3 linked regions of the Homo sapiens genome follow. The protein of the gene in region 3 purifies or fractionates together with the protein of the main gene of each other region. This does not show direct contact. Each region holds a gene or a part of one and is shown on either strand. Other genes may lie near its edges. The genes, in order: MKRN2, RBM45 and PABPN1L.

Region 1 (3,649 bases), on a different chromosome or scaffold from region 3:
CATACAGTGACCAAACAGTTCAAAATGTTTTCCCTCTCTCTTAATTCTACCATTCTCCCCACAGACCTCTATGTTAAGAACCCTGCCCAAGGAAACTCAATCAAATGAATTCCCATTTTGCTCAAATGAACTCTGGTTTATCCAATCATAAAGGATCCCAAACTGAAGTTAAAAAAAAAAAGATACCCAAGAATCCAGAGGGCCATCTCGGAGTACAGAGGAAGGGGAAAGTCACAGAAATAAAGCCAAACAACAGAAAGGGCACGCTGCTGTCAGGGGCAGCTGGGGTGTGTGACAGCGGGAGACAAGAACAGGGAAAGGAGGCTCCTGAATCCAGTGGTTTTCCGTCTTGTCAGATGGGATGGCCGCAGGCCGGTGGTGAAGTTCTCTGAGGACGGCTTCATAGCAGCATAAAGAAAAGCCCTCTGGCCGGGTGTGGTGGCTCACACCTGTAATTCCAGCATTTTGGGAGGCCAAGGTGGGTGGATCACTTGAGGTCAGGAGTTTGAGACCAGCCTGGCCAACACAGCGAAACCCCATCTCTACTAAAAATACACAAATGAGCTGGGTGTGGTGGCTGGCACCTGTAATCCCAGCTACTCGGGAGGCTGAGGCTGAGGCAGGAGAATTGCTTGAACCCAGGAGGTGGAGGCTGCAGTGAGCCAAGATTGTGCCACTGCACTCCAGCCTGGGAGACAGAGTGAGACTTCGTCTCACTGGGGGTGGTGGCGGGGGGGTAGGGTGGGGGGAGAGAGAACAAGCTCCCTGGCCAGCTGATCTGATTTGAGCACAGGTGGCTGGAGAGCAGGTGTGTGGACGACACATCCTCCAGGCCCCTGCTTGCCTGGAGTTCTGAGCGGACTTCAAATGACCGTGAGCAGTTTGCTCTCACCAGAGCCTGCTGGACAACTCCAGAGCATCCTAGCACACTGGCTATGAACTCGATCAGGTCAAACACATTATATACTGGTCCCCCACTCTCACAAGAATATTACTCTTTTTCCTCCCCCAGGCTTATCTGGTCACCAAGGCCAAAAGCCTCCAGTTCACTCTGACTCACTCTGTGTCCTCGGCTCTCACACCCAACTGTGTTCATTCTGTTTACAAATCACTTCCCAATCTCCCCTTCCTTTGGGTTCCCACACTTGTGGAAGCCTCTGGGGCCTGCCTGCCAGGGCCACTTCCTCACTGGCCTCCCTCCCACTCCCACCAGTTTCCACCTTCAGAGCAGCACGGAGGAGCTTCCCAACCTTTTTTTTTTCTTTAAAGAGATGAGGTCTCCCTATGTCTCCCCTGGACTTAAGCAATCTGCCCTCCTCAGCCTCCCAAAGTGCTGGGATTACAGGCATAAGCCACTGCGCCTGGCCCCAACCTGTTCTTAAAGACCATGGTCACACTGGGATTCAAGTGTCCCTTAGATTCCAGTCTGTAGGTCCCACCACATCCTTCTACACACCTGTTTCAATGCCAGGAGCCACTCCCAGTGTCCCCCAGACACAAAACCTACACCCTTCTGTGCCCATGTCCTTCCATCACTTCCCCCTACAGACAGGTGCTTCCTGCTTCATGGTTCAGGCTCCCATGCTGCTTCCCCTGGCAGCCCCCGGTGGATCCAAGTGCTTTCTCTGTTGTGATAGATGGTCCCTCATGAAGAACTGGTCACCAGCAAACCTGTATCATAATTGCCCTTTTGCAGTTTCCCATGAAGTTGTCTTACTTGGCGGGGCACAGTGGCTCACACCTATAATCCTAGCACTTTGGGAAGCTGAGGTGGGTAGATCATCTGAGGCCAGGAGTTCAAGACCAGCCTGGCCAACATGGCGAAACCCCATCCCTACTAAAAAAATACAAAAATTAGCTGGGTGTCGTGGCGCACACCTGTAATCCCAGCTACTCGGGAGGCTGAGGCAGAAGAATCACTTGAACCCTGGAGGCGGAGGTTGCAGTGAGCTGAAATCATGCCACTGCCAGCCTGGGTGACAGAGCGAGACTCGAAAGAAAAAAGAAATTGTCTTACTAATCTCTACATCCCCCAGTGGTGCTTAGCTAGAAGGTACCTGACCCATAGTGAGTACTCAGTAAATGTTTGTGGATTGCAAAAAACACAGTCATTAAAGGAAAGCAAAGCAAGGAAAGATCCAAATAGCAATAACAATCTCCAGACTGCTTTTCAGCAGAGCCCCTTTCTACAGGCTGGGACCCTTTTCTACAGGCTGGGGCCCTTTTCTACAAGCTGGGACCCCTCTGCTTGCCACGCCTTGCCCTCTTGTGGACACACAGGAAGATTGTATGAGGAAAAAATGGTAAAAAAAAAAAAAAAAAAAAAATCAAGCTTTAGTAAACTAATATGCAACATAAAGGAACCATTAAAAAAGGTAATGCATAGTTTCACTTTTAGTATGACAAGTAAACGCCTGCCATACCCAACCCTCCTGCAGATAAGTCTTAACACAAATATTTCAAGAAGACCTGAAGGCACCAGAGAATGAACAAACGCAGTTAGATTCTTTGGAGGAGTAAACACAAAGAAGAATAGCAATGGCAAAGGCTAAGTTACCTTTTTTAAAAAAGGTAGCTTTTGTGGCTCACATCTGTAATCCCAGCATTTTGGGAGGCCGAGGCAGGTGGATTGCCTGAGCTCAGGAGTTCAAGACCAGCCTGGGAAACACAGTGAAACCCTGTCTCTACTAAAATACAAAAATTAGCCAGGCGTGGCGGCATGCGCCTGTAGTCCCACCTTCTTGGGAGGCTGAGGCAGAAGTGCTTGAACCTGGAAGGCGGAGGTGGCAGTGAGCTGAGACTGTGCCACTGCACTCCAGCCTGGGCTACAAAGCAAGACTCCATCTCCAAAAAAAAAAAAAAAAAAAAAAAAAGAAGTAGCTCTTATCCTGGAGCAGGCCAAAATCATAACCACATGGGGTGGCTAAAACTCCAAGGGGAAATCCAATCTTTCTGGCCTGAAGAACTAAAAGACAAGAGTTCAAGGAAATCACAGCCATTGGAAAGTGAGGAAGCAATCCCACAAAGTAAGGGGCCTGTGAAAAAGTGCTCAAAGGCTGTGTATAAACTCTGCCCAAATCTGACTAACTCCCAAACCACACAGGAATGCGACAAAGTCAGCTACGAATGCAAAACCAGAACTGAGATCTGAACTGCTACCTGGGTTTGAGTTCAAACAATTTACCTGCCTGTTAAAAACAGCAACACTTGGCCAGGCGCAGTGGCTCATGCCTGTAATCCCAGCACTTTGGGAGGCCGAGGTGGGCGGATCACCTGAGGTCAGGAGTTTGAGACCAGCCAGGCTAACATGGTGAAACCCCGTTTCTACTAAAAATACAAAAAATTGGCCAGGTGCAGTGGTGCATGCCTGTAATCCCTGCTACTCGGGAGGCTGAGGCAGGAGAATCGCTTGAACCCGAGAGGCAGAGGTTGCAGTGAGCCGAGATTGTGCCACTGCACTCCAGCCTGGGCAACAAGAGTGAAACTCCGTCTCAAAAAAAAAAAAATCATCACTTTACAGATAAACCATAACAGAATCCTAAGTCTCTCTACAATGTAATATTTACAATGTCAAGGATAAAATCTAAAATTACTAGACATACGAAGAATCAGGAAAATGTGATCCATTCTTAAAAGACAACAGAGGTCA
Region 2 (3,649 bases), on a different chromosome or scaffold from region 3:
TAAAAAAAGTTCTTCCATTATTCTTTATTTTTTGCCTATTAGATCTTGGCTACCCAATACAGCTATAAATTCCTTAAATGTGAGGGCTGCCATATACTTCATCTGTATCCCTCTACTTAGCATATTGATCAGTATACTGCAGGTACTCAATTACTGCTAGCTAAATGAGAAATTTAGAAGGATCTAAGAGAAAATCTGGGTATGTACCTTAGGGGTATCTAAGAATTCTACTGATTAACAGTAATTCTTTCCAGTAAGTATATATTTTTATAATGTCCTAAAATCCAGTAATTTAATTACTCTACATATCATTTCTAAAGGTCAATATACCTAACTAGAAGTATACCAACAAAGAATATTCTCTTTGACATCTTTAAAATTCTTATTCTTTATATATACAGCAACATCAGAAGATCACATTCATGTCACTCTAGCTTGAAATTAACCCTATCTATATCAGTTACCTATGTTAGCACATCTTATAAATCTTACCCTTAACCTATAGGTTTATTAGTTATACTTTATAGTCTTTGGGATGTAGATCAAATATAAACAAATATAAAGAATATTTTAAAAACCTTGAAAAGGTAAGTCAAGTTTTTAATACTTAAAATTCTAAAATACACTTAAAAAACCCTAAAAACCTATAAAAATAATACCCAAAGTATGCATTTCACTTACTAAGTTAATGTAGTTGCTCTTATTTCTTCAAGATAGTGCCTCAATGAATGTTTAATCATAACCCCAAAATATTTTTCTTCCTTGGACTGTAAATATTTAAATACCCACTGCTAAAATTACATTAGCAGATACAGTTATTAGCAAAAACTAATATTAAATTCAGCTATTTAGAATAATCAGAATTTTTTACAAAAGTTTTTAACAATGTTAAACACATCCTTACTTCGATCACAGTTTTCTATTGCTTGGGCAGCTTGTGATGGTTTTAAGTATCGTACGTAGCCCAAACCTTTACTTTCTCCAGTCACTTTATTCTTAATAATGCTGCAATACTCGATATCTCCATACACCTAAGAGAGTTAAAAGACATGATTTTAGGGGACTTAAAATTAATTGAACAGAGTATTTCAGAACTAAAAATTTGTTTATATGTGACCCTTGCATGCAAACAAAGAAATAGGCAGTATAAAATATGCAGATATTGCATATTTGTATTTGCAAATATGCTTATTTCATAGATAAGGAAGCTGGGCTTTAGAGAAATCAAAGAGGGACAAAGTCACAGAAGAGTAAGAATTTGTACATGGTCTGGATAGCTCCAAAGTCTTGCTCAACAGTGGTTAAGAGCCAGAGCTCTGGAATTAAACTTTCTAGATTGAAATCCTGAATCAACCACTCATTAATTAGGCAGTTTACTTATTCTCTCTGTGCCTACCTCTTTATTAAAGAGGCTAGCAGTAGTATCTACCTCACAGGGTTGTTTAAGGGTTAACTGAAGTAAAACATGTGAAGTGCTTACATGGGGCTTGGAACATACTCAAAGAACATTAGCTATTATTACTTGTCTGTCTTCTAACAGGAACATAAATGATTGTGTATTCTTTTGAAGGAGTGCTTTTCAAAGGGTATTTCTAAAATATGCTGGTTCACTCAGAAAGTTACTATTCTGAGAAACATGCAGTAGTGTTTACTTTCAATGTTCAAAGAAATATGGAATATAATTGGTATTTATTATTTATTTTATAAATTCTTATGTAATCAATTAGCAACTTAATTACTATACATTAAAGTGTTATATTTGTTCATTCAGGAAAAGAAAAATTTATAAATATTTAAGGTAAAAAACATTTTCCTTACTACTGGAGGATGTATAAAATATACGTTTTTGGTATTTGTTATTTTTGAAGTATTTCATTGAATTCTCAATTGGGGTAGGAGAGAAAGTTTGAAAATTACTTTTTACTGCTTGTTTTCTTTCTTGCTTGTTGCCACCCAATTCATGGGAGGATTAGTAGAAAAAAGATAAAAAACTACAATTCAAAACAATTAAAAAATTGCTTTTTAATAATTTGTGTGAAAGCTCATCACTGCATAAGTTAATGGCTAAAAAGACATAAAATTATCCTCAAATTTCACTTATATAGGTCAGAGCTATATTTACGTTTTCTTCTTTAAATATAATTCCTTCAAAGGCCCAATTTTAGGACAAAAACTCTTCAAAGAATAAGCCTTTCTGTGAATGAGTACCATGTCAACACACCATAGGCCCGTTCTCAATACTAGATAATACAGTTCACACACTCAGGTCTGCCTGATTCGCCTCTACATGCCAGGCAATAGAGGGGAGTGATAAAAGCGTGCTTTGAAATTTTAAAGACCAAGAGCAGGCTCCAGACTCCGACAGCCTGGGTTTAAATCATAGCTCTACCACCTACTAGTTGTGTGACTTTACTTAAAAGTTTCTGAGCTTTATGCTTCATTTCTGCGAATCTCTACTTTCACAATAAAGTAGGGAGAGACTACCATTACTATTTTCCAGCTTTTATATATTCTTTAATTTTAAAAACTAATTTATGCTAGGTTTAATATTTAAAGAGTAGATTGAAATTGATGAAAGCAGTTATGTAATTCCCCAAGACTACTCTATTGACCTTATTCCAACAACATTTCAGATTTAGTACCCATACAACCTATGCAGGACTATGAGTTATCACATATGCTAGCTGATTAGAATAAATACCTTAAATTTTTCCCGCAGATCTTCTTCTGTGTAGGACTTTGGTATCATAACAAAGATTCTTGTAAGTTCTTCATCTTCAACATCTCGGTGACTTCCAGATGATCGGGACTGAGCAATGAAAACCTAAGAAACAAACAAAACTCCCAAAATAAAATAATGTCAACTATTTTCCCATTTCTTAAATTTTTTCAAAAGCAATTATTCTTGCAATGACTTTTTTTTAATCTTTGAGACAGGGTCTCAAAGAAAAAAAAAAGCAGGCTGCAGTGCAGTGGTGTGATCATGGCTCACGGCAGTCTCAACATTCTAGGCTCAAGTGATCCTCCCACCTCAGCCTCCCAAGTAGCTGGGACCACAGGCACACACCACCACACCCAGCTAATTTTTTAATATTTGTAGAGACAAGGTCTTGCTATGTTGTCCAGGATGGTCATGAATTCCTGGGCTCAAGTGATCCTCCCACTTTGACCTTCCAAAGTGCTGGGATTACAGGTGTGAGCCACTGTGCTGGGCCTGCAATGACTTTTTTTTATGAGATAATACCAATCTCTGCATTGTGTTTTTCCCAAATGTATTTCTACTTTTGCATTTATTTTTAGCCAGAGTAATTTGAAGAAACGTAATACAATTAATTAAAACACCATAAACAAGGGCACTTGCATTGTTTGTTTCTTTTTCCTTTAAAGGGGTCTCTATATCTTGGTCTCTGATCCACTGCTGGTAAAGGGGGCTCTGTATCATTAAAGCATGAGAAAACTGGAACTTATGAAATTCCACAGTAGGAAGCAGCAACCAAGAAAACCACAGTGTTAGAGACATATCCCTTTATAGTCTACTTCTAGTTATTCCTTCAATAAATCTATACTATATGTCAAGCACCATATGAGTACAACTATTGAGTAACATGGAAATGGCCCACTAGAGTCTTGTGGCTGATATCAGTAATAA
Region 3 (3,749 bases):
TCCTGCCCGGCTCAGGATACCATTCGGGCCTACAGGGTTCCCTGCCTTTGCCTACCATAGCTGTCATATGACACCCCGTCACGGCCAGCACCCCTGCAGAGGGGGGGGTCACGGCCAGCACCCCTGCAGAGGGGGGGGTCACGGCCAGCACCCCTGCAGAGGGGGCTCCCGCCCGAGAGGGGACACTTCCCCACCATGCCACTGGCAGACCAAACCCAGCTTCAGGTCCGAGGGTCCCGCCACATCCTGTCCAGGCCCAGCCAAGCACCGTGCCTGAGACACGCTGTGCAGAGAGGAGCCAGCTGGGGCTGCTGTGTGTCCCAGGGCCAGTGGGCCAGCCCCTCTGCGCTCATGTTCCTGGACCTGGGGAGCACCGGCGCACCTTGATGACCCGGCCCCGGAAGAGGCTCTGGTCCAGCTCCACGGCGGCCTGCACGGAGCCCTTGGTGGCAAACTCTATGTAGGCATAACTGAGGGGAGGGGCAGGGAGGGGAGGGGTGAGGCTGGGCCCTGTCCGCATGGCCAGTGCCCCCACCAGGCCCCACACTGACCCCTTGGGGTGTCCAGAGAACTTGTCACACAGGATCGTGACTCGGTGGACCTCCCCACAGCGGCTGAAGTGGGCCTCCAGCTCCTCGGCGGAGCCCCCGTAGTCCACCTGCACCCAGGCCCAGACCAGCATGTGAGGGAGACGCCTGGCCCTGACTCGGGGCCTTCTTGTTAGAGGTGAGGAAAGAAACCCCAAGGCTGGGCCCCGTGGCGGGGATGGCCCCAGGCCTCCACCCCACACCCCCGCTGGGGTTGGAGGGAAGAGAGGAAAGGATATCTCGTATGGAGCGCTTCCTTCTGGAGAGCTGGAGCCTTTTAAAAAGCTTCTCAAAAGTGGAGATTTCATGTGCAACCCCGAATTCCAGCTCATGTTGAAAAACTGGAATATGTGCCCAGGCCAGTGTTTCCTCAAGGTGACGGGGCTGCCCCCAGGGTCAGACCCCCTTCCCAGCAAGGCTGCCTGGCCCATGGCCGGGCGCCAGACCCTCTGGTAGAGATGGGGCCCCATTCGCTGCCTGCCCCTTCACCCCGCCCACCACTCACGTTGCCCACGTAGACGGATCTGTGGTCAGCCTCCACCTTCTCCTCGGGGGTCCCAGAGAGGGGGCAGCCTGCGGAGAACACAGCTCAGGCCCGCAGGCCCTTGGTTCCTTCCTCACTCCTCTCACGGGGAAGGTCGCCCAGGCTTATAGGGGAGGTGACACCTTGGAGCCTGCCAGGCCCAACCTTAATGGAAACTGTGGGACCCTTGCTCAGTGGGGGGCGGCCTGTGCCCTTGGTTCCTACCCACGGTCTCAGGGCTCAGCAGCTGCCCGGCCGCGGTGCCCTCCTCTTCCTCGGCCTGTTGCTGCACTCCTGGAGGCCGTGGCGTCCCCTCGGCCTGCTCCATGGCACACACCTTCATCTTGATGGCCTCCAGCTCCTGCCGACACACGGCCCTGAGCCGGGCAGGCAGCCTGCAGGCTCTGCTCAAGGAAGGTGGGTGTGTGGCCTGCCAGCTCCAGCAGAGGGTCACAGCCCCAAGGGGCAGCCCTTCTCTGGACAGGGACACTCCTTCCTGGGGCAGCTGGCTGGGGATGAACTCGCCCCTGCAGAGAAGCCCCCGAAACCGCACCTCAAGGGCCCTTCCCCAGGCGAGAGAGGCCACCTTGACCCTGCAGTCTGTGTGGCTGGGGGCGGGGGGTCTCCTTGCCACCTTCGTCCAGGCAGGTGGGCAATGGCCCTCTCCCCTCCTAAGTCAGCTGCAGCCATCCGTCACCCAGACCCCGTGTCTCCACCAGCCCCTGTGCCCCAGGTCCCCTGAGATCCCCAGGGCCTCCACACAGCTGTTACCTGGTCAGGCAATGGGCACTCAGCCAGGTTCTCTTGCTCCAGCAGAGACAGCAGAAAGCCTGCATCCCCATCCTGGTCTTCCTCTGCATCCTCTTCCTCCTCTTTCTCCTCCTTCCCTTCCCCACCCTCTGGCCCCAGAATCTCCTTGGTCTCGTTCCAGGCCCCCCAGCCCTGGGCCTCAGGGTCTGAGGAGACCGTCTGGAGCCAGGCCTGAGTCGGGGGTGGGAAGAGAGAGCGGCTCGGGAAGGGCCACATGGTAGAGGGGCAGGAGGAAGGTGGGCCAGGCGAGGCCTCCCCTCCACTCCCCTCGCGTCCGCACCTGCCCAGGCTCTCCTGGAGTTTTAAGCCCTCCCCTGAGGCCAGCTGCTCCCACTAGAGCATTTGCAAAGGCTGAGTGGGGCTGAGCTTCCAGCCTTGGCTCCCGGCCCCGCCCCTTCCCTGTCACTCGGACAGGTACCTCCAGGACACTCTCCCTGGAGGAAGGAGAGGCTGAGTTGAGTGGGGGTCACCGGTCTCTTCTGCTTCCGCCTGGCCACGCTGTGGCTCACTGGAGCCTTGGTCTGTGACAGGGTTCACACCTCAGCAGCATCCACACGGCACGAACGCCACACTGCATGAACACTCGATCTAAGTGGGAACACGGGAGTGGTTTCTTCTAGTACCAGGGACCAAGCAGGCTGGAGAGGTGGCTTCCGACCAGGAGAGGCAGGGCCTGAGCAGAGACCGAGAGCAGGTGCATGGGATGAGAGGGCCGAGGCAGGTTGGGGCGGGGTCCTGGGCCCAGAGGAGGGGCAGCAACAGCTGTCTCTGCATCCTGACCCCCATGGAGTCCCCAGGGACCCTTGCCTCCCTAACCCTTATTCTGGGCCTTTTTTTTTTTTTTCTTTTTTTTTTAGGCAGGAGTCTTGCTTTGTTGCCAAGTCTGGAGTGCGGTGGCGCGATCTCGGCTCACGGCAACCTTTGCCTCCCAGGTTCGGGTGATTCTCCTGCCTCAGCCTCCTGAGTAGCTGGGATTACAGGCACCTGCCACCATGCCCAGCTAATTTTTTTTGTCTTTTTAGTAGAGACAGGGTTTCACCATGTTGCCCAGGCTGGTCTCGAACTCCTGACCTCAGGTGATCCGCCCGACTCGGCCTCCCGAAGTGCTGGGATTACAGGCGTGAGCACCGCACCTGGTCTGGGTCATCTTTTAGGTGGGAGCCACTTCCATGAGGCCAGAATTATTCTGCTGTGGGGCGGGGGCTCCGTGGGGAGTGACGGCGTGAGTTATTGTGGGGCGGGGTCTCCGTGGGGAGTGACGGCGTGAGTTACTGTGGCGGAATTCAGTGGGCATCCGGTGGTGTCTGCACCTGGCTTCACCCATGCAGGGTTGCAGCAGGAGGTGACCCGTGTCCGCCCTTGCGCCTCCCTCTGCACCTGCCACCGCGGCTGCTGGAGTCTGCTCTGGCCTTCATCTCCAGTGCTGCCGTCTCCCACCCACTCTGTGAAGGACTCGGGGCCAGGGGGTCATGCATGGCTCTTACCCCTGCCATTGGTGGTGGGAGACGGGGCCCCCTGCACAGCTCCTACCCCCAGGCCGAGGCCATCCTCTCTGTGACTGCACCCCGGTGTTTAGCCAGTGGGGCTGGGATTCCTGGGAATTTGGGACTGGGGGAGGAGAGAGAGACAGGGCGTGGCCTAGGCTGGAGCTGCACTGCTGCACCATGCACCACCCACGCAGGGCGGCCCTTCCTCCATCTTGGGCTGGGGGCTCGGGGAGCAGGTGGACATGGAGGCTGCCACAGCCTGGGAACCCAGGCTCCTGCACCCAGTCTGTTCTCACCTCTGTAAAAGCCAGAAGGTGTCTGAGATGGGTCTCAATCAATCAG

The links.
Region 1: the proteins of PABPN1L (region 3) and MKRN2 purify together in Homo sapiens (affinity purification with mass spectrometry; one large-scale study listed by BioGRID and IntAct). This does not show direct contact.
Region 2: the proteins of PABPN1L (region 3) and RBM45 purify together in Homo sapiens (affinity purification with mass spectrometry; one large-scale study listed by BioGRID and IntAct). This does not show direct contact.

What each region holds. Positions count from the first base shown.
Region 1 is NC_000003.12:12,577,537-12,581,185, reverse strand, and holds part of MKRN2 (E3 ubiquitin-protein ligase makorin-2), read right to left. Parts: intron 1-3,649. UniProt on the Homo sapiens protein: E3 ubiquitin ligase catalyzing the covalent attachment of ubiquitin moieties onto substrate proteins.
Region 2 is NC_000002.12:178,115,437-178,119,085, reverse strand, and holds part of RBM45 (RNA-binding protein 45), read right to left. Parts: intron 2,825-3,649; coding exon 2,702-2,824; intron 1,032-2,701; coding exon 905-1,031; intron 1-904. UniProt on the Homo sapiens protein: RNA-binding protein with binding specificity for poly(C). May play an important role in neural development.
Region 3 is NC_000016.10:88,864,471-88,868,219, forward strand, and holds the start of PABPN1L (embryonic polyadenylate-binding protein 2), read right to left. Parts: upstream 2,191-3,749; 5' UTR 2,137-2,190; coding exon 1,882-2,136; intron 1,472-1,881; coding exon 1,336-1,471; intron 1,161-1,335; coding exon 1,093-1,160; intron 659-1,092; coding exon 552-658; intron 471-551; coding exon 383-470; intron 1-382. UniProt on the Homo sapiens protein: Binds the poly(A) tail of mRNA.